Regions from separate parts of the Homo sapiens genome. Here regions 1 and 3 are each reported to be linked to region 2. The links are microRNA targets in miRTarBase. Many come from high-throughput screens and were not tested one by one. Region 2 holds a microRNA gene; each other region holds the end of a gene's coding sequence.

Region 1 (10,452 bases), not on the chromosome of region 2:
TTCCTACTGGCATTCTGCCCCGCCCTCAGGCAGCAGCAAACTCCACAGCTCTGGCTTGATCAGGGGAGTCTCATTTGAGGGCATAGCTGCCCCAGAGGTGGTGGGCCTCTCCTGAGGCCATCAATGCCTTGAATTGCTGGTCTTCACCCAGCTTAAATCTCCCAGTGCCCTAGGCTAGTGGTTTTCAAAGCAGGTCTCTGGACCAGCAGCAACAGCACCTGGAGGCACACTAGGTAGGCACCTTCTCCAGCACCACCCCAGACCAGCAGAACCAGAAACTCTGGGGAGTGAGCTGAGGGACACTCAAGTCTGAGTGTCCCTACGCTAGGCCAGTGCTCCCACCAGCCCTTGGGTGGAGCTTGGGTTGAGCAAGGGCTTCTGGGAGATAGGAGTTTCTCTGAGGTTCCTTTGGGGCAGGAAGGCATCATCCTGGGAGAAGCACAAGAAGAAGTAGCCAGATTGGAGGGTAGGGCCCTATCCCTGCCGCCTGCCCAAGCCCAGCAGTCACAGCAGCACTTCATGATGGTGTGCAGTTTTGCAGGGGGCCGCAGGGGGAGATTCTCAGCTTTCCAGGGACTAGTGCCCAAGACTCCTCATCTGTAGACACAGGAGATAATGATCTCATGGGTGGAGGTGAGCACTCGAAAGCATGGTGCATGGTAGGTGCTCAGAGATGGGAGGTGGTGTCATTTTCATCCCCAGTGCTTTGCAGAGTCCTTTTGCTGCCCTTCTCACTGTCCTTCATGAAGCTCTCATAAGGTTGGCTGGGATTGTCATACTCACTTGGTGGTCTGGGATTGTCATACCCACTTGGAGGTGAATGAGGTTGAGGTCCAGAGAGGTTCTGTGATCTTCCAAAAGACACACAGAACAATGTCAAAGCTAAGTCTGGAATCCAGATGTCCTGATTCCTCCAGCTCTTCTGGAGGCCTCAGCCAAGTGGTTTCCCCACTCCTGGCCTGGGCAATGGTTGAGGGGCCATCCCTAGGCATCAGCACCCAAGCAGCCTCTCAGAGTCATTCCTATAAACAGAGTCCTAGAATCTCAGACATGGAAGGAACCTTGGAAATAAACTAGTTCACCCACCCTCTTCGCTTACAGACTGGGCAACTGAGACCTACAGAGGAAAAATGGTTGACCAGGTCTCCTGCATCCAGCCCCTGACTCCTGATCAAGTAGTCTTCCCACTGGCCCAAGCCACTCTGGCCATCACTTTTGTCCTTGCTTTCCTCTCACTTTGGGGCACTCACTACCCCCACTCCTTGCCAAATACTAGCACATCCCTGGACAGCAGCAGCCCTTAGCAACTGTTTGTTGAATTAAGGACTTAATGAGTTAATTAATTAATTGCCTGCTCTGACCCCAGGTTGAAGGGCGCCAGAGAGGTGCTGGGGGCTGGATTCTGATCTGGATGACTCACTGTGGATCTCTTGGTCTCTGTTACTCTGACTCTTGGCCTCGCTGCTTTGTTTTCATTGTTTTTCTGTTTTGTTTTTGGTTGGAATCTTCTCTCTCCCTTCTCTTGCCCTGTCCCATCCCTGTGTCTCTGACTGGATCTCCCTCTTTCCCTCACTGTCTTCCTCCCTGATTTATGTGCTGACAGTGGCCACCCAGGCAAGGGAGTGTCCCAAGCCAGGGCCTTCTGTATAGAAGCCAAGGGCTTCACTTTATGCGAGGCAGGCCAGGGTGGAGTGACCTCCACAGCTGAGCTGCCCCCTGAGTGCATTGAACAAGCAGCTCTGGGCCCAGAATAGATGGCTTCTTTATTGCTTATCAAATAATGCTTGCTTTATTCCTTCTCTCAACAAGCCAGGATTGATCTCCACTTGTCAGTGGGCAGGGAAGGGGAAGGAATGAGGAGGCTCCGGGAGATGGAGATGGGGGTGGGGTGACCCAGCCAGTGCTGTACACCTGGTGTTCTTGCCGTGAGGGATGGTGGAGACCCAGGGGCGACAGTCACCAGTCAGCTGCAAGGACTGGTCCAGGATGCTTTAGAAAGCCCACACAGGGTCTTCCTTGTGATCACCCACATCATTTCCTCTCTGAGGGTGCATGGGCTGCTCAGCTCTTTGTGGAATGGGCTTGCTGGAGGCCCTCAGCCCCTCTGAAGTGGCCCCCTCTCAAACTAAGGAAGATTCATCCCTGATCACCAGGGCTGCCCCCAGAGCAGCTGCTGTGTTTGAGAGACAGGGGTGAGTGAATGGATGGTGTGCAGGGCTGGAAAGCAGTTCCCTCTCCCCCAGGGCACTGAACAGTGGTAAACAGACCTTTGGGAAGGGCCGGAACAAGCTCTGTCCAGCCTGATCTGATTTGGGCCCTCCACAGGGCAAACCAACCTGTGACCTCCAGGCCAGTCACCATCCTACAGGCTCTCCCCTGTCCAGTACGCTCATCAGCCAGGGGTCTACAGGGATGGGGTGGAGACACACTCACACCTGGCTGATGCAGGGACCCACCTGGCCCCTCTCATCTCCTCTCCCCTTCCCTGGTCAGGTGGTGAGCCAGATCGATAAGCTAACCTCGGACTTCGACTTTGAACTGGAGCCGGACGACTGGACCACGGCCACTGTGAGCAGCACCTCTAGCAGTGACAAGGCGGGCATGGGTGGCCCCTTTGACCTGGGCCACCTGGACTTCATGACAGCCGATATCCTCTCAGACAGCTGGGAGTTCTGCTCCTTCCTGGACGTCTCTACCCCCTCGGACTCCGTGGATGGTCCCGAGTCGACTCGGCCAGGGGCTGGCCCTGACTACCGCCTCATGAATGGTGGCACGCCCATCCCCAATGGGCCACGAGTGGAGACCCCAGACTCCTCCAGTGAGGAGGCCTTTGGTGCTGGCCCCACGGTGAAGAGCCAGCTGCCCCAGCGGACCCCAGGGACACGGGAGAGGGTGCGGTTCAGTGACAAAGTGCTCTACCATGCTCTGTGCTGTGACGATGAGGAGGGGGACGGTGAGCAGGAGGTGGAGGAGGAAGAAGTGGGCTTGCCCCCTGAGCCTGCCCATACAGAGGCCCATGCAGGCCCCCACAAGCCCTCCCCAGCCCCCTACAAGTCACGGCGCTCTCCACTGACCAGCCGCCACTCAGGCTCTACCTTGGCCCCTGAACAGACTCGAAGGGTCACGAGGAACAGCAGCACCCAGACAGTGTCAGACAAGAGCACGCAGACGGTTCTGCCCTACACAGCCACTAGACAGAAAGCCAGGGGGAAAAACTAGGGGCCGGGGAGGGGGCCGGGGGCGGTGGGCACATAGAGCTATAAATAAATATATATATATATATATATATATATATATTTAAACAAATGAAGTCATAATAAAATTTAAAAATGCTAAGGATCTGGCCCCACAGGCCCCAAAGCTTTCACAGAGCTCCTCTTAGACATGAAGATGCCCATTGGCCTCCTAGGTCCCAGGAGGTGTGGGCAGGACTGCCCTTCCTCCGTTCTCATTGCGGGGCTCCTGAAGGGGGTATCTGAAAGTATGTAAAACTGATGGGAGGTCTGATCCTCCTTTTGCTAGCCCCTGAACTCTGTGGTGGAGTCTGGCTGATGGCCAGGGCCATGTCCTAGAGGGGACTCCCCTGCAGGAGGCGGGCTCTAAAGGGAGTGGTGTCCCTTTAGGCCAGGGTTCACAGTCGGGGTGGTCTGGAGACTGCAGGACTCAGGGCCTGGGGGTGGCATCAGTCTGGCCAGGCCCTGCGTCACTTGCACCCACCATCCTTCTACTCCAAGGCAGACTTACTCGGCTATACACAGTCCTGCCTCACCCCCTTCCATCTTAGGGTTGCCTGGGACATAGGGGAATGGCAAGCTGCTCCCATGGCGCAGGCCTCCGTGCTGGGATGCTGGGCATCCACAGAGCCTGAAGGATCGCCTGGGCTGGGCAGGGGTTTGATTGGAGGGTCTGGACCACCCCCAATCCTTTCAGCTCCCATTCTCAGCCTGATTCTGAGACCAAGACCAAAACCTCAGGGCAAAGCCTCAGCCAGTCCTGGCGTGGCCCTAAGCAGACCTGAGATCTGTGCGAGGAAGTAGGCAGCCACTTCCATGGGGCTAAAAATTAGGGCCGTAGACAGGCTCCTGGCCACCTTCACCAGGTGGGCAGCCTTGGAAAGGAGCCCAGTGGTCCCCACTCCGTCCCGATGTCTCCACACCCAGCCCCTGAGCCCATCTCAGCAGGTCCTGAACAAAGATGAGGTTACAGCCTAGAGGTACCAGGGCTTCATCTGGGGCATGGCCAGCACAGGGACAGCAGCTGAATATCCTTGGGATAATAATGACAATTATATTGCTCACATTTATTGAGCAGGTCTCTATGCTACTTCTATGCCGAATACTTTTTATAGCAGCATCTCATTTAATCACCACAATAACCTGATGAGACAGGAAGTATTATTACCCCATTTTTCTTTTTCTTTCTTTCTTTTTTTATTTTTATTTTTTTTATTTTTGAGATGGAGTCTCGCTCTGTCACCCAGGCTGGAGTGCAGTGGGGCGATCTTGGCTCACTGCAACCTCCACCTGCCAGGTTCAAGCAATTCTCCCACTTCAGCCTCCAGAGCAACTGGGACTACAGGCATGCGTCACCACGCCTAGCTAATTTTTGTATTTTTAGTAGAGACGGGGTTTCACCATGTTGGGCAGGCTGGTCTGAACTCCTGACCTCAAGTGATTCGTCAGCCTCAGCCTCCCAAAGTCCCGGGATTACAGGCGTGAGCCACTGTGCCCCCACCTATCCCCATTTTTCAAATGAGATGACTGAGGTTCAAAGTAGTTCAGTACCTGCCCCAAAGCCACAAAGCCTGTGCTACTCTGCCCCCAAGAATTAGTGATTTCCAGGCTGTGCCTGGCTCTGCTAGCTAGCAGCTGTGTGACCTTGGCAAGTCCGTTTGCCTCTCTGAGCCTATCTACCTCCTCTGTATAATGGGTCTGGTAGTCTTCACCTACCTCACCAGCTGCTGTGGAGCTCCGACGAGATGGTGACTGTGAAAGCACTTGACAAACTGAAGGCACTGGACATGCCTTGTGGTCAGTGTGGCCTCAACCCAGATGTCCAGTGATTTCCAGGGCACAGGGGCTTTGAGTGGGATGGCCAAAGAAGACACCTCCATCCAACTGGGAGCCACCCCTGGGTCACAAACACTCCATTGCTTGGTCCCTCGCAGTAGCTCGAGGTCAGAAGTTGACTGCAGCTTGATTCACAGCCCCTCGCTCAGAGCAGGGAGGTGGGACTGGCAGCACAGCAAAGACATCGCTCCTTGGGGGCCTCCCTGTTGCATATTTCAATTAAGGCAGGTTTACAGCCCCCCAGCGTCTGTCCGGAGGGGGCCTGAGCAGCAGGCCTGGCAGCACCCACTGCTCCTGCCTGAAGAGGTGCTATCCAGCCCCGGCTGTGGACATACAGTGAGATTGTACAGGCCGGTCTGGAGCAGCTGCAGGGGATATGATCTGGATAAGACTGAGCAGACCTAGGAGGCTCTGCAATGTAGAGCTTATTCCTCAAGCTCATGGTGAGATTGGAGCCCTAAAGAGTTAGCCAGGGTGCAGCCACCAGTGTGGAAATCCAGGGATGGCGCAGGCCATGGCCAGCTCTTCCCAGCTCACGTCTGAGAACCAAGGGTCTGAGCCCCTCTATCAGCCCCAGGAAATCCTCAGCCATTTGGTGCTGATCAGCGATAGGGCTCTGGTTCACAGGATGAGTGCCAGGGGCTCCTCTGGGGAGAGGGGCCAGCTGCATTCCGCCCCACCCTGAGAGTGAGAAGGGGGCAGTCCCCGACCAGGAATGGGCCTACCTGGTGCTAAGAATGGACATAACAGTTCTCCCTCTGAGGCTTGCATTTCATCTGTCATGGCAAGAGCACTTTCAGGCTCACAGTTTCTCATCTTTTCAACAGTCAGGGAAAAGAAACCTATGGAATAGTTCGCATTTCACAGAGGAAGAAACTGAGGGCCAGAGCTAGGGGTCTCTGACACAGCCATGGGATCCTGCACCCCACACTGGCTCTATGTGACTCTGTAGTAGTGGCTAATGTCCATCAGTCGCCCCCTGCTCCCCTGCCTGGCCATTTGCCCCCAAATAGGGCAGTGGTGGGAGTATATCCTGGAGGAGGGGGAAGTGGGATATAGGTAGTACTTGGCTGACTTCACAATTTTGCTACACCCAGTCTGGACCTCCTGACAGTGGAGTGGGATCCCTGTGGCTTCCTTTTTCTTGTTTTTGTTTTGTTTTGTTTTTTTTTAGATGGAGTCTCCCTCTATCATCCAGGCTGGAGTGCAATGGTGCGATTTCAGCTCACTGCAACTTCCACCTCCCAGGTTCAAACAATTCTCCTGTCTCAGCCACCTGAGTAGCTTGGACTACAGGCACCCGCCACCACCCCAGCTACTAAGTTTTGTATTTTTAGTAGAGATGGGGTTTCACCACATGGCCAGGATGGTCTTGATCTCTTGACTTTGTGATCTGCCCACCTTGGCCTCGCAAAGCACTGGGATTACAGGCGTGGGCCACTACGCCTGGCCAATTTTTTTTTGTTTTGTTTTTTTGAGATGGAGTCTTGCTCCATCTCCCAGGCTGGAGAGCAATGGCGTGATCTCAGCTCACTGCAACCTCTGCCTCCTGGGTTCAAGCGATTCTCCTGCCTCAGCCTCCCAAGTAGCTGGGATTACAGGCACCCACCATCATGCCCGGGTTAATTTTTGTATTTTCTTAGAGATGGAGTTTCACTATGTTGGCCAGCCTCATCTTTGAACTCCTGACCTCCGATGATCCACCTGCCTTGGCCTCCCAAAGTGATGGGATTACAGGCGTGAGCCACCGCACCTGGCCCCAGTGGCTTCTTCAGACTTGAAACACAAAATGTGGCCAGCTAGGGATAGAGAGAATTCTGACTTTCAACACTGCTGAGTCATGGCATGGGCTGCTTCTGGGTAGTGAGCTCCCTGTCCTTGGGGTAGACACAGCCATCCCTTGGGTCCTTCCTCCAGACCTTCCAGGTACAGCCCTTTGCTGCTCTTCCCTGCCTCCAAACCTTTGCCAGTTTTTGAGTTTCTTTACCCAGGATGTTCCATCAGATCTCTCTGCTTCCGGGAAGTCCTATTCCACTGACCACCTACTGTGTGCACAGGCTTGTGCTGAGTGGTGCTGTGGAGGGGCAGAAGGGAGCTGGAACCTGGTGATGGAGAGAAGTCATAGCATGATGAATAACTCATGTCCACTGGGCACGTGCTAGGCACTGGGCATTGTTCTAAGTGTATGTCTTATCTCATTTACTCCTCACAGCACGTATGAGATAAGCAATCTTACTTATGTCTAAGTAGCTTCCAGATGAGGAAACTGAGGCTCTGGGAAGTGAAGTAACTTGCCTAAGGAAACACAGGATGGGCTATGGAACCAGGATTCAACCACAAACACAGTGACTTAGCATCATCTACTGCAAACATCCACTGCAGTTAAAATGCCTGGAGTGGGTGGCCTGGTCACTGGAGGTGAGGGTCGGGGCTGGGTCGTCTGAGAGCCAGGCGGGTCTTCGGGGTGAGGGGAGTGTTGGGGTGAGGAAACATGTGAACATGCCTCAGTCTTTGGAGAACTTAGTTACTGTTAACCTGAATGTCACCACCCCTGACTCGGAGACTGGCACCAAATGGATTATGGGTTCAATAAATGTTTGTTGAATGAATAAACGAGCCCCATTTGCAGAAGGGTATCCACTATGCATTCATTCAATCAGCTTTTATTGCAGACCTCCTGTGTACCAGGTGTCATGGTGCTTGCACACATAGGTATACACAACTCCTCTGTGAGGGTCTGGTCTGGTGTGCCTTGGGGCTGGGGAAAGTCAAAACTGAAGGGTGTGGGGTTTCAGCACTAAGGGAGCCATAGCTGCTGCTGGGTCTAGCCTGGGATGCCAGGGTAAGGAACCAGAAGTGGGAGGCAAGTCAGCTTGGTGAGGAGACCACTCTGGGAGATGTCCTGGGAAGGGTGGGGGTCCCCAACCTGACACTCCATTAATAGGGTGGGCACATTGCCATGTCTTTGGTGTCTAAGAATGAGGAGGCATCACTGTCTGTATTTTATAGATGAGGGACAGATGATGTCATCCACAGAAGTGGTCTAATGGGATCAAGGGACAGAAAGGAGGGTAAACTATTCAGAGACCCCAGCACCATCCCCTGTCCTTAATGAGGACTTGTCAACAAGAAGGGAAAGTGGGTGTAGTGGGGCTGGGAATTCCAGAGGCAACAAGACCAGCCCTCCACCCTGTCCACTCCTGACTTTCTGTTTCTCTGTTCCGGCGCTTCCCACACCCACCCATCTCCCATTCCACAGCTGAGACTTGTGTAAGAAAACTGATGTTTATTGACAACCTAGTATATATATGTCAGGTACCGTGCTACATCTTTTAACAAATACTAAATGACAGATTTAGTTGTACCTAGAACAGAATATGTTGCTCAATAATTATTTGTTGAGTAAATGAATTAACCACAATTTTTATTTTACAGGTCAGGGGAGGCAACTGATGAACAAATAAGGAATTCATTCTAAGTTACACAGCCAGAAATTGGCTGCTCTGGGGACTGACATTGCCATTATTATTTACACTATATATAAGTGCTACAATGTATAGCATACTATGTGATTGTTAGGCACTTTACATAGTGCTCACCAGGGTTTGGGCCCTGACTTCAACTCCGCTTTAGGCCAGACTTTCAGAACCACCCCCTAGTTTCTGGTGGGTCTGGGGCACTGACTGGGTGACTAGCAGAAAAACAGCTCCAAGTCCAAAGCATCCTTCCCCCTTTCCATTTCTCTGGCAGAGCCAAGACTAGCCTGCCCTAAGCCCAGTAAATATCACTGCCCTTTCTGGTCTAGGCTTACCTGACAATGGGTGGGGCTGGAGTATCTAGAAAAGGCTTCTGGGGGCCGGGTACAGTGGCTCACGCCTGTAATCCCACCACTTTGGGAGGCTGAGGCGGGTGGATCATGAGGTCAAGAGATGGAGACCATCCTGGCCAACATGGTGAAACCCTGTCTCTACTAAAAATACAAAAAATTAGCCGGGTATTGTGGCGGGAGCCTGTAGTCCCAGCTACTCAGGAGGCAGAGGCAGGAAAATCACTTGAACCCAGGAGGTGGAGGTTGCAGTGAGCTGAGATTGCACCACTGCACTCCAGCCTGGCGACAGAGCAAAACTCCATTTAAAAAAAAAAAAAAAAAAAAGGAAAAGGCTTCTGGAAGGAGGGAGGATTTCACATGGAATTTCACTTGAAATGGAATAGAGCTGGGTCACCTAGAAGTGGGAATGAAGGACATGAGATACTGGTGGAACTTCACAAAGGTGGCTGGGGGAACCATATAGGAGATGGTGGAGAGAGCCCTTGTTAAAGTAGAGGTGCACATTGGTGCAAAATGGAAAAGATAAGAGCACCTTCTGCAAGGGACTTTTGAGTCCCCAGAGCCCCACTCAGAGCCACTCCATCCTCTTTAACTGTGGGGGAGGAAGCCAGGGTATCCTGTCTAGTCTGATACTGGGAGAATAGCTTTATGATAGCTCAGCAACAGTTATCCAGTAGACCATCATGATAGGGACCCACTCTTATGAATAGATAAGAACAGCACACAATTAGCACATTGGTAAGTAACATAGATATGCTAAGCCCTTGAAGATAATTGGATCTTGCAAGCGGGTTAAACGTCCCTCCTGCAATGCATTTGCAGTGCCCTTTTCTTTCTCCCACAGGGCAGAGGGGTGGGATGCTGGAGCTGCACCTTCCTGTAACATGTTACACGGGAGCTAGCTGGAATTCTGATGCAACCTGACTCCTCCATTGGCCTGCCCCGAACCCCTACCAGAGGGGCGAGCACAGCTGCCATCACCACCTGCCCACCCCCACCTTACCTGTACCAGCCATGCCAGACTAGGGGACCAAGGGGTCTTGGAGGGTGACCTCAGGCTGACGCTATCCAGGGCTCAGACACTGTGCTGATCAGACATGACTCCCTGCCAGGAACACTCAAGCTTACACACCTGCCTGAGGCTTTTGGCTCTCAGTTCCTGTTCAGGCTGCTCCATTCCTATTATGCTGGGATGTGTAAAGTCAGGCACTTCCCACTGTGGACAACAAATCTGATGGTGCAGACCCACCCTGGTGTCCTCTCCTCCCCCACTATCTTAGAAGAGCCACAGAAACCCAGTCTCCAGGCATCACCCGACCTGTCCTCCACCCCCAAGAAAGCAGGATGGGGTGGGGGTTGCAGGTGTCACTGCAAGGCACTGCCTGTGGAGCAGCTGTGGAAAGATCCCGAGGGGCCCTGATCTTTGTGGGGTTCCTTGACACACGATGGCCAGTGGTGGGGCCTTCCCAGGAGACCCCTGTAAAATGGAGAATTTTTCCTTAGCTAAATGGCTGAGTGTGAGCAGCTTCCCAAAGGAGGTAGTGCTGGCAGCCC
Region 2 (10,452 bases):
CAATAAAGCCATTCAGACTCCTCTTCCTTCTTTCCCCGCCCCCCATCTTGCCTGGTCTTTGATGAGAAAAAAAAAAAAAATGTACGTGAAAACATGCAGCCAAAACATTCTGCTGCACAGCAAAGACCTTCAGATATTTTTCAGTCCTTTTTTACTCCTAAGGTGTGGGCTGAAGGAAGCAGAATGGGAGGGAAAATTCACAAAGAACACGAATTAATACTTCAGAATATAACATGGCCTCATAATTAAACACTGTGATAAGTGTTACAGAGGGGAAAGAAGAAAACAAGGAGCCATGTAATGGAACAAGAGAAGCTACTTTTAAAATATATATATATACATATTTATTTATTTATTTTTTGAGACAGGGTCTCATTCTGTGGCCCAGGCTGGAGTGCAGTGGCGTGATCTTGGCTCACTGCAAACTCTGCCTCCCAGACTAAGCAATCCTCCCACCTCAGCCTCCTGAGTGGCTGGGACCACAGGCACATGCCACCATGCCGGCTAGTTTTTGTATTTTTGATAGAAACAGGCTTTCACTATGTTGCCCAAACTGGTCTCAAACTCCTGAGCTCGAGCAATCCACCAGCCTTGGCCTTCCAAAGTGCTGGGATTACAGATGTTGAGCCACCATGCCAGGAGCTAGTTTTAATAGTGTTAGAAATGGCCTCTTTGAAGGGTGACATTTAAACTGAGATTAAGGAGAAGAGTCTGTTATCATAAGAAAGAGCTTGTGTGAAGGTCTTGAGATAAGGAAGTCCATGATTTGCCATGTAGGAGCAGCTGAAAGAACAAAGTGACTAAAGTATACATAGTGGGATAAGATGAGGCTGAAGAACTGATTGGGAGCCAACCAATGGAGTTTTAAGGTTGATACCCAAAAGTTTTCATTTTACTCTAAGTGCATTAGGAATCTGAAATCAATTCTGAAATCTGATGATATGCCAAGAGTCTCTAATACATCCTGAGGCTGTTCATTATGAAATGAAATGTATTCTACTTTTTTTTTCTGTTAGCTTATTATTATTTTTTGTATTGAAATTTTCTTTCTATATCCTTAAATCACTTGACTAGGATATTGCATATGATAACAACTTAAGAGCAATTTTCCCTTTTTTTCTGTCATCATATTTAATGAAAATTACAAACTTTTACTTTATTGTGAATTGATATTTTCAACATTTCAAAAGGGACTCATTCAAATTCAAGTTCTTATGGTTTCTCAGGAGTTAAGGTTATTCTAACCATAATACGTTTATTTACTCTTTGAGACTCTATTTTGTCATACGTAAAGCAAAAATAGCAATATCTTTCTCACAGGTTTAATCCAAAGATTAAATAAGAGAAAGTATGTAAGAGTGTCTGGCATTACGCTGGATACCTTTTAAATACCCAGTAACTATAAATTTTTTCTTTTAAATCAGATAATAGTCTTTTCTTTCTTATAATTTTATCTCCCTATAGAGTTAGACTCTCCGCCCAGTTTAAGTCATCTCCTCTGCTTTTTGTTTATCTTCAAGAGACAATAAAAGTCCCCCATTAAATACTCTAATTTCAGAGGAAATTGGATCCTTGTCATTGGTGGGTTGATTATGGGCAAGTCATTGGAATTTTTGGTGTCTTTATATCTGCAGGACTGATGTAACAACACCTGTCCTGTCTACCTTTCCTAATAGTAATTAGGATAAAAAAGAGAAATGATAAATACAGCATTAAAAGATAAGACTTATGCTTCCACAATTACACAGCATTGTTGCTGTATATTATTATTAAACAGCCTTTCACCAAACTTCCAGATGCATCTCTCCATGTTTCCTATTGCAACATTTTTCCTTAATTTACAAAAACAGAATATGTAAACCAAGTAATGGTCCTTCTTCTGTTCTAGCTGAGAAATGTGTGGTTTATCTCAAATGAATAGAATATTTGTCTTGAAATCCTGTGCTGGTCCAAAAAAGCATCATTTATATTTTGTGGAACTCACCAAGCCCAATTACCAGTGATTGCTTTAAACATTAGTGAAAAGCCAATGATTCGATTTAATCCTAACTTGGGAGGAACATTCTTCTAACTTATTTATGCTGGTCTACAGACTGTTGGCACTAGCCTAAAGCAAGGTTGGAATGTTAATATGCCACAGCTACATGAGTATACCTAGTGAAATGCAAGCCAAGTGTAAGTCTAAGGGTTTATATAATTTTCCATAATGGATTTATATCTTGTTCTGTTTTTAATTATATTCTCAAAAACAGAAGACACTGATACATATGGCAATCAGATGACATGTCACAAGCCACATGTGATTGCTCACAGGTTCATGTGAGATAACCAAACTTTAACTCAAATGTTGGTTGCTGAGTCTCAGATATGGGAAATGAGTATCAGCAATTGTGGTATTAGAACTACATCTTTCTAAGTTCAGCCAGGAGGTATGGGCTGTTTCAATAAATTTGCAAATGAATCACATTTGATCATAGGCCTTTCCTACTTGGGTTTCTTTCTCTTCTCTCATAGATACAAAATCATTAGTTGCTAATTTTATCACAGCCAACCTTACTCTGAATTGTAAATTATTGACCTTGCCCTTCAGTGACACCAAATCACTTCTCAAGAGAAGTCATGTTTTCTATTTACAGAGGTGCCTATTATCACCAACTGTGTAAATATATAGCATATCTTAAGCTTTAAGAATATAAATTTGAATAAGAACCAAAGCATAAGACTTTAGATCCTGAAGTCAAAATCTGTATATGTAGTATACAAGATTTGATCTAGCATCAGCCTGAACCTATCTTATCACCCAGCACTACCATTTCAACATAGATTTTTCATTCTGAACTAATCACTATATATGTGGTAGTCCTTACATACTTAAAAATCGAGTAAAATGTGACATCAGAAGAGTTGAGGATTCTGGGCAGTCTCTGAGCTTCTACCTCTGAAAGTCAAGGGAACATGACATTGTACTAGATTTGGTTTTGCAAAAGGCTATCCAGGAAGTAGGAGTGGTTAAATTTGACTATTTTAGGGTCCAGAAGGAGATTAGATAAGTGAGCAGAGATAATCAAGAGGGAAAGATGGCAATCTAGAGGAGAAATGCCCTATTACAATTCTAGCCGGTTATTGCCATTTGGTACTGTGGACAGTGTAGCGAAAATTCAGAATTTAAAAACAAGCAAACAACACCTTCTGCCTTTGTAGAGGAAATGGTATATATAATAAGAAGCATTTTAAAGGATTAATAGTAGTTATCTATGGAATGTTAGAATGAATAGGTTGATGGAGGGCATTCTAGACAGAGGGACAACATCTACAGAAACATATAAGAAACAACATGTTTGTAGCTAAAGAGTAGGGTTGAAGGGATGGGCTTGAGCCACATCATGGAAGACACCATAAGCCATCACAAGGAGCCCGGACTTAACATTTGAAAGTGGTAGGAAATTGCCAAAATGACATGAATTTTTATAGGTTATTCTGGCAATTGCCAACATGTGGGCATAGGGTGTGTGAAGGCATGGAGGAAAAGCCGGAGGTGGAAGATCAACCAGGACACTCTTAGAAGTTCTGGAGGGACATGGTGGAGGTCTTAACTGGAAGAGGGGCAATTTGGAGAGAAAGGAAAAGATTTGAAAATGACTTTGGATGTAACGGGACTATAAACAAGAACTGGTGATTGACTGGATATGCAAGGTGAAGAATAGGGAGTTACCAAGAACTCTTGGGTTTCTGACAAGGATCTTGCCTCTTGTTGACACAGCAGAAAAGATGGTTCAGGTGAGAGTGAGCAGCTGAGTACTTGGAGGTTGTGTTGTCTATGGCTCAGCCATATGAACATAAACAAGGGCATAGGTTTTAATTTAGTTTTGCCTTTTCCAAGATGTAAATTTAATTAACTGAGCTCTATCAAACTGACAGCATTTCGAAGTAGAACACTTAAAAATTATATTATGTAAACTTTTCACTCAATTACATTTGTCAACCAGGATTTCTCACCCTTGAAATTGCTGATATTTTGAATGGGATAATTCTTTCTGGGGGAGGCCATTCTGTGCATTGTAGAATGTTTATCCTGGCCAGTAACACCCTCCCCATCCAGTCACCACAACAAAAAATGTCCCCAGACCTTTTGAACTGTCCCCTAACAAGCAAAATCATCCTTGGTTGAGAATCACTATCTTAAACTAAATTAGTTCATTTTCATGAAAACAGTTCCAAACCATATAGTAGCTACAATATTAAAATCTGAAAAATGCACACATTGTACACTATGCCATAAATATGAATAGAATGGACTTCTACCAAATCATAGCATCAACATGTTTGTAGCTAAAGAGTAGAGTTGAAGGGATGGCCTGGAGCCATGTCACGGAAGCTACCATAAGCCATCATAAGGAGCCTAGACTTCCCATTTGAAGGTGGCCATTTCCTACCACCTTCAAATGGTAAGTCCAGGCTCCTTCTGATTCAATAAATGAGGAGCATTCTGGAAAAGAGATTTCATCCAAGGCTTGATCTCAATTGAATGTTCTGTGTGGAGGAGCACCAGAGTTGATCCCAATTACCATGGATGACAAAGGCAAAGCAATTGACAGCTTGCCATTATTAAATTTGGTATTGAATCTGTCTCTACAGGCAAACGTTATTGTAAGAATATCACTTTAAAATCTTCAGTCAGACTGCTAATAAGATTTATTAACCATGGTACCATGTCTGGCACTGGGAAAGGAACAGTTTAAAGAAAACGTAGATCATACCCTAAGGGAGCTTACTTTGATCTAATTATCCTAGAAACACCAAGTTAAGTTTTTCATAAGTAGAAATGGATGCACTACTCCTAATTGCCTTAGCTTTAGCTTTGAGTGATTTGTAGAAATATTGTGCCAATATGTCATGAACAGAAATATGCCAAAGCCTCACCACTCTTCTTTTTTGCCTAAATCTAGAAGGCACAATATCTATTTGACCACTCAGTAAAGTCTGTAACCAAAACCTGCAGGGTACCTGAATGCTGTCTGTCTCTCAGTTTTACAATGGATCTGAAATGAGACTGGCCACCAGGCTAGACAGTGCACAGCCACTCATCCTGAAATTCCCCTTATTTTTGTGGCCATGATCTGTTTACATTTTGAAAATCTAAATTACATGATAATTATTATTTTGCTATGCACTCTTAGGCAATGTAAGAGCAACTTTAAATATCATTGCCCATGTTATAGCAATTTAGACACAGCTAATTACCACAGGAACCTAGGGCACACACCATTTCACATGAGTCGTGTTTTATTAGATGAAATTGGCAGGAGGGATAATGCAAAGTTGTATGATGTTGGTTATCACACCACACATCATGTTATGGGACAGGATTTGTAATTGCTTCAAATATATTTTCCTTCAGTTGTATTGGATATAATTTTGCATATATTGGCAGTGTTTCACAAAGAAGCCCAATCACTTTCAGTCTGCTTGGTCTCTAATAAATTTGTTTACTCTTCTAGAAAAGGATTAATAATTATGTGCAACTTTTAGTATGTCTATTTTGTAAATAAAACAAATCAAATATATTCATTAAAATTCCCCTGATGCATTATCAATTATTTATAGGAATGTGAGACCTTGGGTCAGACTTTTAACTTTAGCTGTCTTTGTTTTGTTACTCTGCCTAGATCCAAGCACATTCATCTGCTTTCAGTAATATATTAACTGCTCAGTGACTCCACCAAAGCCTTAGTTTGAGAGATGTTAGATAGGGCAATAAATCGACAAAATATACATGAACTTGTATCTAAAGCACCTGTGTAGCCAAACAAGGCTATATAACATTGCTTGGCCAGTTTCAATAGTCATTCACTCAGTCACTCAATAAGCATTTATTAGGCATCTACATTGTACAATTTGAAGCAGTCAGGATTCTTTAATGAAAAAAAAGAGACAAAAAAGTCCTTACCTTTGTGGAGTTCACATTCTAGTATGGCAGATAAGCAATAAACAAAATAAATAAGGAAATCCATATAGTGTTAGAGATGGCAAGTGCTAAGAAAATTAATCAGTACAGCGTAAGGAGGCTAGGGGATGCTATGGCAGGGAGAGTGTGGTGCCGGTCAGAGTAGCCTCAGTTAAGGGGTGATATTCAAGGTGGAGGTCAAAGGAGATAAGGGAGTGAGCCACACCTAGGGAAGAACATTCAGATCATTCTCCTGTGACCATCAGAGGAAAGTGTCAACACCAAGTCTTTAAGGTTTGAAGGGCACTGGCATTCGAGAGAAGCAACGAAAAACCAGTGAAACTGGAGTGGATTGGAGTAGAGGGGAGAAGGAAATGAGTTCAGTGTTAGTAATTCACTTTCATTTTCAATTTTTAGTTTTTTTCTAATTAAAAAAAATCAACTTTTAAAAAATATATCTTCTACTCAATTATATGTGCCATTGTGTTAAAATGGCAATTTTTAAATCCCCAGACATTAAGTTTAGAAATAAAGCAAGCACCCCCAAATGTAGTAACAACATTGGTAACAAAAGTAATGGAAAATACTTCCTTCCAGGGCTTCTAAGCCAAGCGTCTGCAGAGCACTCTAAATGCACTGGGCCCTTTAGTTCTCAGTAAATCCCTATAGGGCACAAATTCAATGTCATTGGTGGAGTTTGGTGAATAATTTGCTAACTTATCTGAACCTTAGTTTTCTCATTGCTAAAAGATGATAATATAAGAAGCTACTTAGTTTTTCTATTTTAGTGTTTAAATGGCATAACACAGTTCCTGAACATGTAGTAAGTACTAAATAAATGTTAGTGCTTATAATCATTGCTAGTTTATAATCAAGGCAGCAAGCCATTGATTTAAGCAAGCAGGTGAACGGAGGCAGTGAGGAAGGTGAAAGAGACATCACAAGGAAGGGCCCAGAGACAAGAAAAAATTGCATGTTCTCCTGTTTGGACCTTCATGGATTAGCAAATGAGGGTGAAAATATACACAGGGGCCAGATCACAAAGGGTGAGGTACACTAGGCTGAAAGACTTCAGCCTGTATCTGCAATACAGGCACATGTAATTATTTTAAGCACGAGAGTGCATTTTGGAATGATTACTATGATTGCAATGTGAAGAGTGGTTTAGAAGTGGCCAGAATTAAAGGCAGGGCCACCAGATGTGGATGTAAGTTAATATTTAGTGAGAGAAACACAGATCTCATTAGTATCTATCTCATTATGATCTATTATGTAGAGAATATTGATGTTTCTTTGTTATGACACATTATTATTTGGGGAAGGGGGATAAGATCAACAGTAATTGTACCAAAGAAGAAAGACAAAGCCAACTCATTTCATTTTCAGAAAAATTCCTAGGTCAACTGATTACTCTCTGTGGAATCTCACATCTATCAAGATTGAGATCACTGCAAGTTTGTTTGTTTGTTTTTAATCTCAGGAGCCATTAGATGAAAAGCAAAATTTTAAACATGAAGTATTTCATAATCCTTCCTTATGATTTTTCCATTGAACATTATTCCTTGAAAACATGGATTTATAGCCTATATATTGAACCATGAATGATCTGCCATGCCGTATAAGTGATATGCTGGCCCCGACAAATAAACAACTGAGAGGAAATATAGGAAAGGAAAACTTGGGTTTCAGCAAATTAACGATGTCGGGAGAAAAACCATTCAGTCATGATAGTTCAAACAGAATATCATTGGCATTACATTGTGACTGAGGTTTTGAAGCTCCCACAGACTATACTTCTACATCTGTAAATTTTGAGGTAACTTTGCTAAAATCCCTTCATTTCACCTGAGTTACCCAGGCAATTATAGAATTATAGTTGTAGGGATTTTTGCTTTTGTTTTGGGGGACTTATTTTGCCCAAACTACTTGAAAGCTCTGCCTGAAAGTACTATTTAAACAAAATTATGCTTTGTCCCACCTTCTTTGGTTTGTTCTAGAATGACCTTTCCTCTCATGATCCTTATGGGATGATACTGGGCTATTGTATTTAAAAATATACAATAAATATGTAAATGCATTCTTAGCAAATTTTTAAATAATTCAGTGTGGAAAGACTAAAATCAGATTTTTTAAAGAGTCCCTTTAACTGTTTTCCTCAATCCGTTCCAGCCCCTCTCTCTCTCCACGTGTAGAAACACCATTGTAGTGAGCATGCATCTGAACGTTTCTCTTTGTATTCAAGCACACACATACACCACACACACACACACCCCACATTTATTTACTTATTTATTTATTTTTAAATACAAACATATGAGACAATGCAGGGCTGTGATTAAGAGGTCAGCCTCCAGACAATGATTTGTTACCCATTAACGGTGTGGCCATGGAAACTTACTTAACCTTTCTGTGTCTCAGTTTCCTCATATATGAAATTGGGATGATAACATTACATAACTTGCAGTGTTGTTATGAGAAGTCACTATTTTGCTACATTTAAAGCCCTTGAAACAGTACCTGATAGTAAATACTCAATGAATATAAGCTACTATTATTATTATTATATGTAATTTTCTTAAATGCACTGCTATTTTTACATATACGTATTATCTATGACTTGCTTTCTTGGTTAATAATGTCTTGGAGATTTTGCCTCATCTGTACATAGACCTTTTTAAATCTTCTATATAATATTCTATATATGGTGCATTTAACTATTCCCCTGTTGATGGACATTTAGTTTGTTAACCAAATGGTTTTTTGTTTAATTTTGTTTCACTATTTTGAGTACTGCTTGAATGAAAATCTTTATGTATATGAGTAACTATTTTTCTCAGGTAGATCCTAATATATGCAAGCCAGGATAGGAAGATATGGATATACTTTATTTTAATAGATATTGCCAAATTGACTCAAAAAGCCTATATCAATTTATACTTCTATGTTTTATGAAGATATAAATTTCACCAAATCCTTGGGGATACATTCTTTTTTTAAGCATGTGAATGATTTTGATCTCATTTTAGATTTAATCTGCATCTCCCTAACTGATAGTAGAGTTGAGCATCTCGTAGCTGAGAACTTTATGTGAAGAAGCTAGTCATACAAAATTCTGGCAGGAATGAACTAGGTATAAGCAAGAACAAAAAAAACGTCCAGAATGATTTGAATATGAATGATGGGGAGAGTATTAGACATAAGGTTATAGAGGCCAGCTGGGAGTGAAGAGTGAAGGTCCTTGTAAACCATCATAAAGTGTTTGCTATTTATTTTGAGCAAGAAAGTGACATAATAGAGAATAAGTACTGTTTGGGATGGGCTTTGAATGATGGGTGGGGGGTTATTAAAACAGAGTGGAGGAAGGACATTCTACACTGAGGGAATAAAACTGAGAGATTATAGAAACATGAAAACACATGCTGAAATCAAAAGCATAGTGTTGCTTCTATGTTGAAGATTAATATTAGGAAATATAATTGGACCTGCCTGTACATGGGAAGTGCTTTGCATGATACAGGATGTTTTCATTTTCATTTCTAGAAAATTGAAAAATATGTATGGGGTAATGCATTTATTGGGTACATTCTGTGAGCCAGGTTTAGTACTTGGCACTTTACACGGGTAGTCCATATAAACCTAAATGACTTCTGTGAAGGAAATGTTTTGTTTGTTTGTTTGTTTGTTTGTGACAGAGTCTCACTCTGTCACCCAGGGTGGAGTGCAGTGGCAGGATCTCAGCTCACTGCAAGCTCCGCCTCCCGGGTTCACGCCATTCTCCTGCCTCAGCCTCCCGAGTAGCTGGGACTACAGGCACCCACCACCACGCCCAGCTAATTTTTTGTATTTTTAGTAGAGATGGGGTTTCACCGTGTTAGCCAGGATGGTCTCAATCTCCTGACCTCGTGATCTGCTCACCTTGGCCTCTCAAAGTGCTGGGATTACAGACCTGAGCCACTGTGCCAGCCCTGAAGGAGATGTTATTAATGCCATTTTGCATATATGGGAACTGAGAGGCTCAGGGAAATGAAATAACCTTCTTACAGCAGTAATCTTTGACCTAAGCTTTAAAGTCAGCCCTCTTCAGATTAGCTAAACAAACACTGGATGAGTACTGTGCACTGTGCTAGGTATCAGGGATAAACCATCAATGTAGCAAGGTCCCTGCCCTCAAGGACAGTGCCTATCATAGTTGTGTTCTTTCTACTCATCAATAGATTTTAAGCAAGGGCATGCAAAAACCAAGCAACTCAGCCAGGGGTGGTGGCTCACGCCTGTAATCCCAGCACTTTGGGAGACTGAGACAGTAGGATCACTTGAGGTCAGGAGCTCGAGACCAACCTGGCCAACACGGTGAAATCCCATCTCTACTAAAAATACAAAAATTAGCCAGGCATGGTGGCACATGCCTATAGTCCCAGCTACTCGGGAGGCGGAGGCAGGAGAATAGCTTGAACTCAGGAGGGGAAAGTTGCAGTGAGCCAAGACCATGCCACCGCACTCTAGGCTGA
Region 3 (10,452 bases), not on the chromosome of region 2:
TTGGCAGAAAGAATTCCTGTTCCCTCCAGTCCCGTTCCTATAGCAACCATCGACTTGGTACAGCAACAGACAGAAGATGTCATGCCACGCATTGAGCCCAGACTTCCACCCAAGAAAACTAAGCACCAGGAAGAACAGGAAGATGTGAACAAACCAGCCTGGGGAGTCAGCTCTTCTCCCTGGGTGACCTTTGTCTATGCACTCTACCAAATTAAAGAGATGATGCAACTCACAAGAGACAACCGTGCTTCTGAGATACAGCCTTTACAGGTACAGTTCCTTTGCTGGGCTAGCAATATTACCTGTCACTCAAGATACCTTAACTGGGCTCAGTTTTAATTACTCACTTTTCATTCAACAAGATTTATTGAAAGTCTGGTGGGGGAAATAGACATGCAAACAATTTCAGTACTCTGTGAGCACTGAGTTAAAGAGGGTGTATACAAGGTCCCATAGAGAGAATATTCTGCCTTATGGAGTTCAGGAAAACTTCAGAGGTTATGATTCTTTCACTTCTTGAAAGAAATAAAATAAATTAATCCATTCTTTCATTGTATATTTGTTTTAAATTTCAGTATTGATGGTTGTCTCTGTAATTCCAAAATTCTAGTGGGGGCATTATATTATAGGACCACAATAAATATTTGTTGAATTAATTAATCTGAGCCACTGTATGGGTCTGATAGGACACCTAACTCAGTGGAATTATGGTTATGCAGGTGGCCTCACCTGAAAAATAAGTCTAAAAGTGTGATTTTTCTTGTCCCCAGAGGAGTGATCTTTCCTGAGTAAAGTTAAAGCATGTTGATAAAAGTGTGGATAATTGTACAGGTGTATCCCGACTTTGGAAAATGAGTGTAACTTCTATAAACAATTTAGCCAAAGAAATAGGCTCAGTTCCCCCATCTCATGATAATCACTCCCTTTTATTTGATAAGTCACGTCAGCTTTGTCTGGAGTAGCTTCAGAGGACACATAAAAATAAAGGGGAAAGATTTAAAAATAAGGGTCATTTGAGTAATTCCCCTTTCAGAAAATTTGTTGAACTGTTAATTAATCTCACTTTGTAAGCTAACATAAAATCTTTGTGAAATTTTAACCAAATCTGGTTCTTTACTGATAACCATATGCATGCTAGTCCATGCATGATCCTATTTATTAATTTATCAAGATAATAAACTCACATCATTACTCTGCTCAGTCAAGAACCAGATATTGTGGTGGGAGATGCATATGGAGGATTTTAATACCTTAAAGCAAGAAGACTAAACAGGAGAAAGGATGATTTTAATATCTGCTGCTTGAGTAGCAATATTTTCATTACTTTGTGTACTCATCCTCATTTTCACAGAAGCCACATAAAATTTTTGATGTGGCGCTTTTTTTCTGGTATGTTAGGATTAATAAATTTTTTTCTGGGCTGGGCATGGTGGCTTATGCCTGTAATCCAAGCACTTTGGGAGGCCGAGGTGGGTGGATCACGAGGTCAGGAGTTCAAGACCAGCCTGGCCAAGATGGTGAAACCCCGTCTCTACTAAAAATATAAAAATTAGCTGGGCATGGTGGCGGGTGCCTGTAATCCCAGCTACTATGGAAGGCTGAGGCAGAGAATTGCTTGAACCCAGCAGGAGGAGGTTGCAGTGAGCCAAGGTCACGCCACTGCACTCCGGCCTAGGCGACAGAGTGAGACTCCGTCTCAAAATTATAATAACAATAATAAATAAATAAATAAAATGTTTCTGGTATGTTAGGATTAATAAAAACTGGCAGGTATGCTGTAGTTATTCTTAGAAGTCATTATACTAAGTTTCTTTTTCTTTCATTGTAGAATCACAGAAATGAACATTTTTATTTGGGTGTTCAGCCAAAAAGTGATGGGTACTAATTTGGGGGAGAATCCATTTAAATTTTTTTTTATTTGTACAACCAATATGGCATTTATGGAAATTGCTGCTGGTGATGTTCTACTCATGGTTATTTACAGTTGGTTACACAAGTGCTTGTTTACATTCACTTCTTTATGTGGATGTTCTGTCTTATCTAACTTTTGGTGCACATTTTGAAATACCAAATATATATCAGGACTCTTAATTACAGGACATTCTTTCCCAGCTCTGCCTCCAAGGATAAGAACCCCTTATTTACCTCCTGTTAGACAAAGTGTCTTCTGGCTCTTGGATTCTGTGGTCTTAGCAAGCGGCCTGAGTTTCAGTTATTCCATAGTGCTTGCCCAGCGACTTGCCACATGGCTTGGGGGGCTCAGTAAATATTTGCTGATGTAAACTGTTTACCAAGTACTAACAGACATTTTGGTAGTAATGTTCCTTTTTCCACAAGACACGTCTGCTTATAGTGTTTGTGTTTTTCATGCGGCTCTGGCAGTTGCACATAGGAAAGGAGATGAAAGGTAAGACATTCTATCCTTATTCCTCTATTACTTGGTCCCTGAAATGGGCACTTCCGGATGATCTCCCCATGTTTCCTGTCTTACTTGAAAGCATATATAAAAAGTTGGATTTATTTGCTATCACTGATCATGGGGCATCTCCTGTTTTTTACCTCCAGGGGACCAATGAGAATAGGGAAAATTCTCCTGCTGGTAGAGCCCAGCCTGTCCCATGTGAGACTCACTCTGACCCATCTAGAAACCAGCCATCCCCTGACGCAGCAGCATCTCAGACGCAGACCAGCCCCGCTCACCCCAGTGTGGACCCGTGCACAGAGGAGAGTGAAGAGCAGCAGGCTCAGCTGGCCGCGGGAGGACACTGAGGGCATCCTGCTCATCTCACACCCTGCATGGAATCAGGCTCCTCAGCCAGGACACAGGGTGAGGCCCCCCAGCCAGGATATGCCTCCCCTGGAGGAGCACAGCACTGCATATGCTTCTAAATATCTAAACTCATTAACATGGAAACACACACACAGGAGCTACAGTACATATTGGCAGGAAAAGGTAAACTTTCGTAATCTCATTGGAATTACAACAGGGAAATGGAGTTCAATGAGGACTTTCAGTTCTTTGCTTGGTTAGGTTAAGGATGATAGAATTTCTCTGCCAGTGCAGTAAGAGTTGAAACCGGCAGTTACACTAAGTAAGTGGAGGGAATGAAAGTGTTTCGAGGTGAATGTGGATATAATTTCCCTCTTCTGATTATTTATTCTTATTTGGTTCCTAACACAAACTGGGAAGAGATAGAATTCATCTATACTTTCTTTTTTCTTGGAGAGAACCGTTTAAAAAATTACAAGATATATTTAAAAAGTAACCAGATAAAAGTAGCACATGTGCTTTTGTTAAAAATAAAGTTAAAAGTTAAAGTTAAAAAATGAAGTTAAAAGTTTCATCAGAAACTTTACATATCTTTAGCAAATATATTTTTATATGTGTATGGCATATAATGGAAATAATTCTTTGAGCAACAGAAGCTATTATTAACTACTGCAAGCTAAGCCGAGCTTAAAAATGCCTTTTGTTTTAAATGGGCTTTGAGAAAAAAAACAGAAACAAGCGATTATTTCAAATCAACCAACCAACTCAGTATCCTGTGTTTTGATAGACAAGAGTTTACTAAATATATTGATACTGTAAATAGCCTCTCTCGCTATTTACTATCTTATAGTAATTCAGGCTCTAATTAGCTGAGGGAATGAAACACACAAAAATCACTGAATTCCTAAGAGTTCCTTAAATAAGCAGTACTAGTTACAAATCACAGTATAAGATTTAAGTGCCTGGGGGAAGGATACAATTTTTAGAAATTACATATTGGGTCAGTTTTGTTTTGTTTTTGGTGAGGAAAAGGTGGTAAATAGGAAACCATGAATGGGAAGGATGGCAATAAGTAGCAACTATACTTTCCAATGACTAAAGAAAGAAAATCTCAGTATATTCGTTCTCATGAAGACACAGTCAGACACTGGACAATGTAATGTATGCAACTGCAAACGTTACAACTGCAGCCAGAACAATGGCTGGGTGGATCGCACGTAAAGCTTGCCACTAAAAATCAAAGCAGAGGTTAACAGGAAACCTGGGGGGAGTGTGGAAAAGGGAAAACTGTTTTAGCTGAATAAAGGTGAATTATATAATTTATAATAGCTGTGGATGAGCACAGGAGAGAGAGGAAAGAAAAGAACAGTCGAAATGAGCAACTCACCTTACCCTCTGACCCTGATTAGACAGGATCAATTGTAAAGTGAGGGCTTCTCCATGACACCATAGTTCTGCCCAATACTGCATTTGGGATAAGAAATTCTACACTTGGATGTCTCGCTTCACAATAAAACACAGCTTAAAAATAAAATAACTGAAAGAAATAGAATTCAGCAAATAGTTATTTTTTGCACTTGAACTGAAACGTACTGTACTGTAAATTATGACTCATTTTAAGTGACCTTTAAAATCAGATGTATTTATTATGCTTGTGTAATTATAGAAATAAAGAAATGGGTGACAGGCTTAACCTCACCTATGAATGTACAGTATGTGGATTTGTGAAACTGACTGTAGGAAGTCAAAAACTTGTACTGTATCTTGTGTTTACAGTTCTGATTTATTCCTTTGAAAAGCCTGCTGTTTTGGAAATGCACAGTTGACATGTTGAAATAAAAATGAATACCATTTTTAAATGTTTCTTAAATGATAAAGATGTGACCAAACAAAAGTCCTATACTCTAATGAATGAGACCAAATTCAACATGCCTTTGTTATGGAACATTTACTGTGACAGCAGAATCGATAATGCAGTCATTTCCAGCCTTGTGAGCTGACACCTTCATGGGTTTGTGGACTTTGTGACTTTTTCTTCCTGTCCCCAAAGTGCCATATGCTACCTTAAAAAATATTAAAGTGAATTCAAATTACATTTTGATTTGAGATTTTGTAACCCCTCTTGAGATCCCTCAACACACACAGGGGTGTCACAGAGCCCAGGCTGGTAATCACTGCCTTAATGACTTACTTCCTACTCTTTCTCCTATGGTTGTAGAAACAGTAAATTACCGAGTGCTGAGCTTGTGTGGATCCAAAGTGGTTAACTGCTAATTATTGAACTATTCCTCAAGTTTTAGGAATAGATTATAATACATACATTGTCCAGCAGGCAGTAAACCTCATGAAAAGTGTTAAGGAATTCACAGGAAGAGCAACCCTGCTTTACTGGCTTATTAATCCTGCCATGGGTCACATGAAGTGGATAGCTGGCTAATAGCTTCCCTCTAATTGGCAATTCCTTCCAGTACTGCTGAGGTACTGAGACCATTACTTAGGCAATATTCCTCTCTGCCAATTTGGAGTTCAGCAGGGAATCTAGGAAAAGGGAACCACATCCGTGGATATTGGGTGCTTGTAGTGTGCTGATGAGATTATCATTTTGCCCTTAACAAAAACTGGAGGTGTTCCTATCACTATCCCCATTTTAAACAAGAGAATTCTGAAGCTAACAGTTTAAGTTATGAGATCAAGGTCACAAAGCCAGGATTCAAACTCAAATCTTCCTAATGTCAAAGCCCTGGTCCGCTTAGCACCTTACCCCACCCCAGGAGGCAGGGAGGCCATTCCCTGCATCTGTTATGGCAGAGGAAGCCATAAAGCAGCCCAGCCTGAACCATTACCATACATGCCTGATATGTGTATGTGTGTGGTTGTATTTCCATTTAGGATTTCTAGATATTCCTAGATTCCTAGAAATGCTTCAAATTCCTGATGCTTTGTGAAATGTAGGTACACCAGACCCTTTACACTCTGCAGGTGAGTTGGCTGGACTGATAACTGCACAGGAAACCCAGAGGTTGGTAGGGACTCTGGCCAGGGCCATGGAAATCAGGAAGGGAAAGCAGACACACCCACAGCTCTGTACTGTCCGGTAGGACTTACTGGGAAGATGGGAAGTTCTCTATTTACACTGTCCAGGATGGTAACCATAAGCCATATGTGGCTATTAAACAACTGACATGTGGCTAATTTTCTGGGGAATTAGGTTTCTAATTAATTTTAAATAGCCACACGTGGCTCAAGGCTACCATACTGGACAGCACGGGTATACAGGAAGAGATCCTTTCGGGAGATCTCTGGGCCTGTTTCCTCAGCTTCAGTGTGAGAGGTTAGAGCTTAAGGTTATGTTGATTCTATGAAAATGAAGGTATGCTTTGACAGTGACTGTAGGGAAGAAAGAGGTGATTTTCCATTTGGAAGTTCTTCAGCCCTTTGGAGCATGGAGACAAGACAAAGGCTACTTCTGAAGCCCCAAACCACTCCTGGGCTTGTTTAGCAAAGCCTTGAGAATATCTGGCTTAAGAATTCCAAACCATGGGGCAGTTGGGAGAGAGGCTGGTGCCTAGGTGGGGACAGAAAAGGGGTGAAAGGGGGAGTGGTTTGTCAGATCTCAGAAAGTAATTTACACTATGCCAGGACAAACTGTGGCTTCTTATAAGGGAGTAACTGGAAACTTGCTGATGTCTAACATGGGGGGAAAGTGAGCCAGTCCGGCTAAGTGCCAGTCCAGCTGTGTACCTAACTCTCAACCAGCTGCCATCTGCTTCAAGCAGCTAATATAGGACCACTTGTCCCCCACTGTGGCTCCAGGAAAGTCCCAGTTTTTAGATGGCAACCCAAGGACCTTACAATGTTGGGGTTAGGAGTGTGCGCCCTGGAGTCACACTGTTTGCATTTGAGTCCCAGCTCTGCCAGTGAGAACTTACACACACATAGAACATCTCTGGGCCTCAGGACCCACCTCTGTAAAACGGAAGTGATTACAGTAGGTATGTAACAGGTTGATGTTTAAAATGAGTTATCTGACATACAGTGTGTGCTCCATAAATACTGCCATTGTTGTGCAGCAAAGAGCCCGGGGCAGGAGGAGCGCTGTCTCATTTCCCCAACCAGGGTCTAGTTCTATTATTTTATTGCCATTTAAATCTATAATCATATTCCATTCTCCCAATCTACAGTGCCATACTATACATATTTACCTATATCTAGTAAGCTGTACAGTAAGGCATTCAATTCCAACATGCATTGTAAACATTAAGTGGTTGGGGATATGAGTTAGTTAAGAGACAAAATTAAGCAAAACTTAAGTTGAAGAGGATGGAAAAAAGTGATGATGGTGACAATTCCATAAAGTGCAAAAGTCTGCTGAGAGAGGTTATAAGTTTCATAATTTTCATTTTTCTTTTTCTTCTTAAAGGTGTCAACAAAAGTAAACAATTTTATAATCATTTAACAAATTATATACCATACTCTCTCCAATAGTCAGTGTAGGATGCTATTCTTTTAAATTGTAAACTTACATTTGAAAAAAGGTCGGATTTTTTTTGTTTCCTGAAAAGATCACTGGCATCTTAGAAAAATAACATGTAGACCAGTGCTACTCAAAGTGTGCTCAATGACTGGTGCTGTCAAACTACTGCTGGTATGTGACAACATAGAAATTAGACATTTCAAAATATGTATGGCAAGTTGACATTGTCATGACATGATCATCGTGCTTATATTCTGTATGTCTTTTCTTTCAAAGATTATTTCATTTTTCTAATAATTTAGTGTATCTTACAAAAGTATTACTAGTGATGAACTAGAGGGAAACTGGTCCATCACCCCAGACAGTCTGAGAAGCACTGACAAGAGCCGCAGACTACAGTGTCCATTGCTGCGGGGCACAAATGACTGGTATGTGTATAACATCAGCAGATGTAGTCACCTCTTGAATGCCTTATCCATGGGGTCATTTCCTTCACTTTCTTAAAAAGATGGTAATAAATAAAGGAAGTAGAATATGAGCCCTGGAAGCAGACATATGGGGGCTTGAATTCTGATTCTACCACTTTAGCTATATGTGTCCTTCAGCAACTTTCTCCTACCTTCTCTGGGTCTTTCCTCATCTGTAAAATGAAAATACCAAAACATATCACAGAGTGGTCATGAGGTGCAAATTAAGAGGTATCGAAGGTGCCTCATATAGTGCCTGATGGATCTCTAGTCAATGTTGGTATTCTTTCCCTTTCTCTTTTCAATCAGTCTTTCTTTTTTGGAAAAACGACCAAATCTAAAAAAACAGATGCCTCAAATTATTTAAATAATAGAGAAGCTACCCACTAACTGTATCTTCCAAGATTTATATTAGATAAGTATAGTATTCATTTCAAATCTCTGGTGACCTATTAAGGTTTCACATTCAGGGATCATAACAAAAAAAATACAGTTACCTTTAAAAGATAATCCAACTCCTAGGCCAGAGAAAGACTAAAGATTTTAACACATCTGAGTAAAAATATGCCCATCAGAGGGGGTGGGATGTTTGTCAATAATGAAGATTAGAAAAACAGCAGTCACAGAGAGGAAAAAGTTGGCAGGACCTGCATAAAGGAAGGCGTGGTCTTTGTCAACAGACCTGGTATCTCATCCCATTAACAAGGCTAGCCCCACTGGGGTGGGGGGTGGCATCTGCATCAAACTCTTTGGCCTCATGACATTAACCATGTGAATTATATAACAAGCTCCCTTTGTTTTGTTTCAGTTCACCAAGTAGCCACCTTATTATAATTTGACCCCTTGTAAATCTGTCTTCTGAGAGAGAATCTGCTGGTCATATCAAGTCAAGTGTTTTTATCCTTATGCTAGTTATATTTTTGGTTGTGAATCACTACCTGTACCAACTATATGAATTGACTAACAAGAGACAGGTCTTATGGTGCAATAACAAAAAGCAGGGTTCTAAGTCAATAAGGCTAACAGTCACACCCAAATAGTTCACTCTTCAATGTCATGCCACCCAGCAGGCTCTCTCAGAAGGCAGCTTGCTCCTGTTGTCACCTAAAAGTACCTCTCTGTCTTCCTGCAGGTGTCTTCAAACTTCCACATCCATTATGTTGTCTATCTTGCTTTCAGTTGGACAAGAAAAGCTAATTTATAAAATTGTACATCTCTCACTCTGGGAAACAATCACACATAGCATAATGTAAGAGAGCATTTCTTTAGTTGACATCATTTCAGGATCTTAATTCCTCCACATATTTAGATATTTTTATGTAATCCATCATCTATTCCAAACCCTCTTAAAATCTAAATATATGAAATTTCCAGATTTTTTTAAAAAGTCATAAATTGAAATATTGTCCTTCATGTCAGATGGACATTCCCCTGTAATTCAGCCCTAGGTATTACTGGCAAACCATACAACTAATTCACAAAGCATTTTTTGTGATATGTAAAATGTGTTTTAAAACCTTTTAAAAATAACACTTGAATGATACGATTGTTTAAGCATAGCCACCTACACTATATCTCACCCACACATCTGGTGTCAAAGAGTTCAACTTGCTAACAACAGTAAGCTTTTGTAGGCACCAAGCATAAGCAGTAAAATAACAAAGGGATCTGTTAGGCTCCATAATTATACACCTATGGTGTGTGAGGCACAAAGCCAACTTCCAACCACCTGTGAAGGGCAGAGCCATTTTATTGAGTGGTCGTTTAAACTGTTCAAAGGCCTTTAAAAAGGGAGGAGGAGAGGAGACAGGAGGTGAGGGAGAAAGAGAAGGGAAGGGAGGAAAGAAAGGAGGGAAACATTTCTTGGAAGAGTTATCTGTACATTGCTTGATGGGGATTAGAATTGTGATCAGTACTATAATACACCCCCAAATCAAATGAAAACAACATAAATACACTAAAAATATCACAAGTAATGCTTCTAATTGTTTAGCTTCTCACAGTAGTCACAAAGCAGAAACTGACAAACCTATGATTTCCTCTAAAAATAAACATGGAAAACAATATCCTCAAGGACTGCTGTTGTTCTTCTCTCTTTGGCTGTTTTTACTGTGATGGTTACACCTGGCTAGCTGCCCATGAAGAGCTGCTTCCTTCCCTCAGCAGTACCTCTTCCCCCTGGCCCAGCGGCTGTCCTGGCTGGGATGTACCTGGCAGCCCCAGCAGATTGTTCATGTGTTATTTACTCATACGCATACGTTGTAGCACACAAACTGCTTCTTAGGAGACGAACTTGGTGAGCACAGGCACTGATACATCTGATACATTTATATCACCAATAAATATAATTTAAAAAAACAGATTAAACCATAAGAAAAATATTCAAACTTCTATTTACTCATAAAATAGTTACCATAAATCTGAATGGAAAATATATCCTTTGGTTTTTTAAAAATCCAAGTCTATATAAAGGCAGATTAACTTTAGTGGATATTACAAAAAAAAAAGTTCCCAGTATGAAAAGATGTCTGGCAAAAACAGACCTGTAAATACTTCAAAGAGGAACTATCATTTGAAAATCAATCTAGGAAGTTCCAGATGGATAGTCATGCTCTTTTTTCATGATTTAGAAAAACTACTTAATTTGGCTCAGGAAAGCAGCAGTGCCAAAATTCTGTCTATCCTTCGCCCATAACCTTTGTCCTGATAAAAAGATTATTTTTATGATCCCATCACAGGAA

What was found. The annotated mature microRNA hsa-miR-617 reads AGACUUCCCAUUUGAAGGUGGC and lies in region 2 at 4,402-4,423, shown strand. An mRNA with a match to its seed (bases 2 to 7 or 8) in the 3' UTR can be bound and repressed. Matches are read on the target gene's strand: a 7mer-m8 pairs with bases 2 to 8, a 7mer-A1 pairs with bases 2 to 7 and ends in A, and an 8mer does both.
Region 1: miRTarBase lists INSYN1 as a target of hsa-miR-617. Seed matches in the 3' UTR shown: 7mer-A1 at 3,308-3,314, 7mer-m8 at 7,089-7,095 and 7mer-A1 at 7,185-7,191.
Region 3: the mRNA of MFSD6 is a reported target of hsa-miR-617. Seed matches in the 3' UTR shown: 8mer at 4,510-4,517.

Annotation. Positions count from the first base shown.
Region 1 is chr15:73,732,684-73,743,135 of GRCh38, reverse strand. It overlaps INSYN1 (inhibitory synaptic factor 1), which reads left to right. Exons shown (of 3, transcript NM_001039614.3): 3 at 2,494-7,678. The coding sequence ends at 3,219. Among named protein-coding and RNA genes, the nearest start is that of INSYN1, 15 kb to the left of the region's middle.
Region 2 is chr12:80,826,564-80,837,015 of GRCh38, reverse strand. MIR617 (microRNA 617) reads left to right here and starts at 4,387; the gene lies at 4,387-4,483. The region is part of intron 4 of LIN7A (lin-7 cell polarity scaffold A); the gene reads left to right.
Region 3 is chr2:190,497,450-190,507,901 of GRCh38, forward strand. MFSD6 (major facilitator superfamily domain containing 6) reads left to right here. Exons shown (of 8, transcript NM_017694.4): 7 at 1-270; 8 at 2,566-4,865. The coding sequence ends at 2,769. It overlaps NEMP2 (nuclear envelope integral membrane protein 2), which reads right to left. Exons shown (of 9, transcript NM_001142645.2): 9 at 6,889-10,452. Among named protein-coding and RNA genes, the nearest start is that of NEMP2, 32 kb to the right of the region's middle.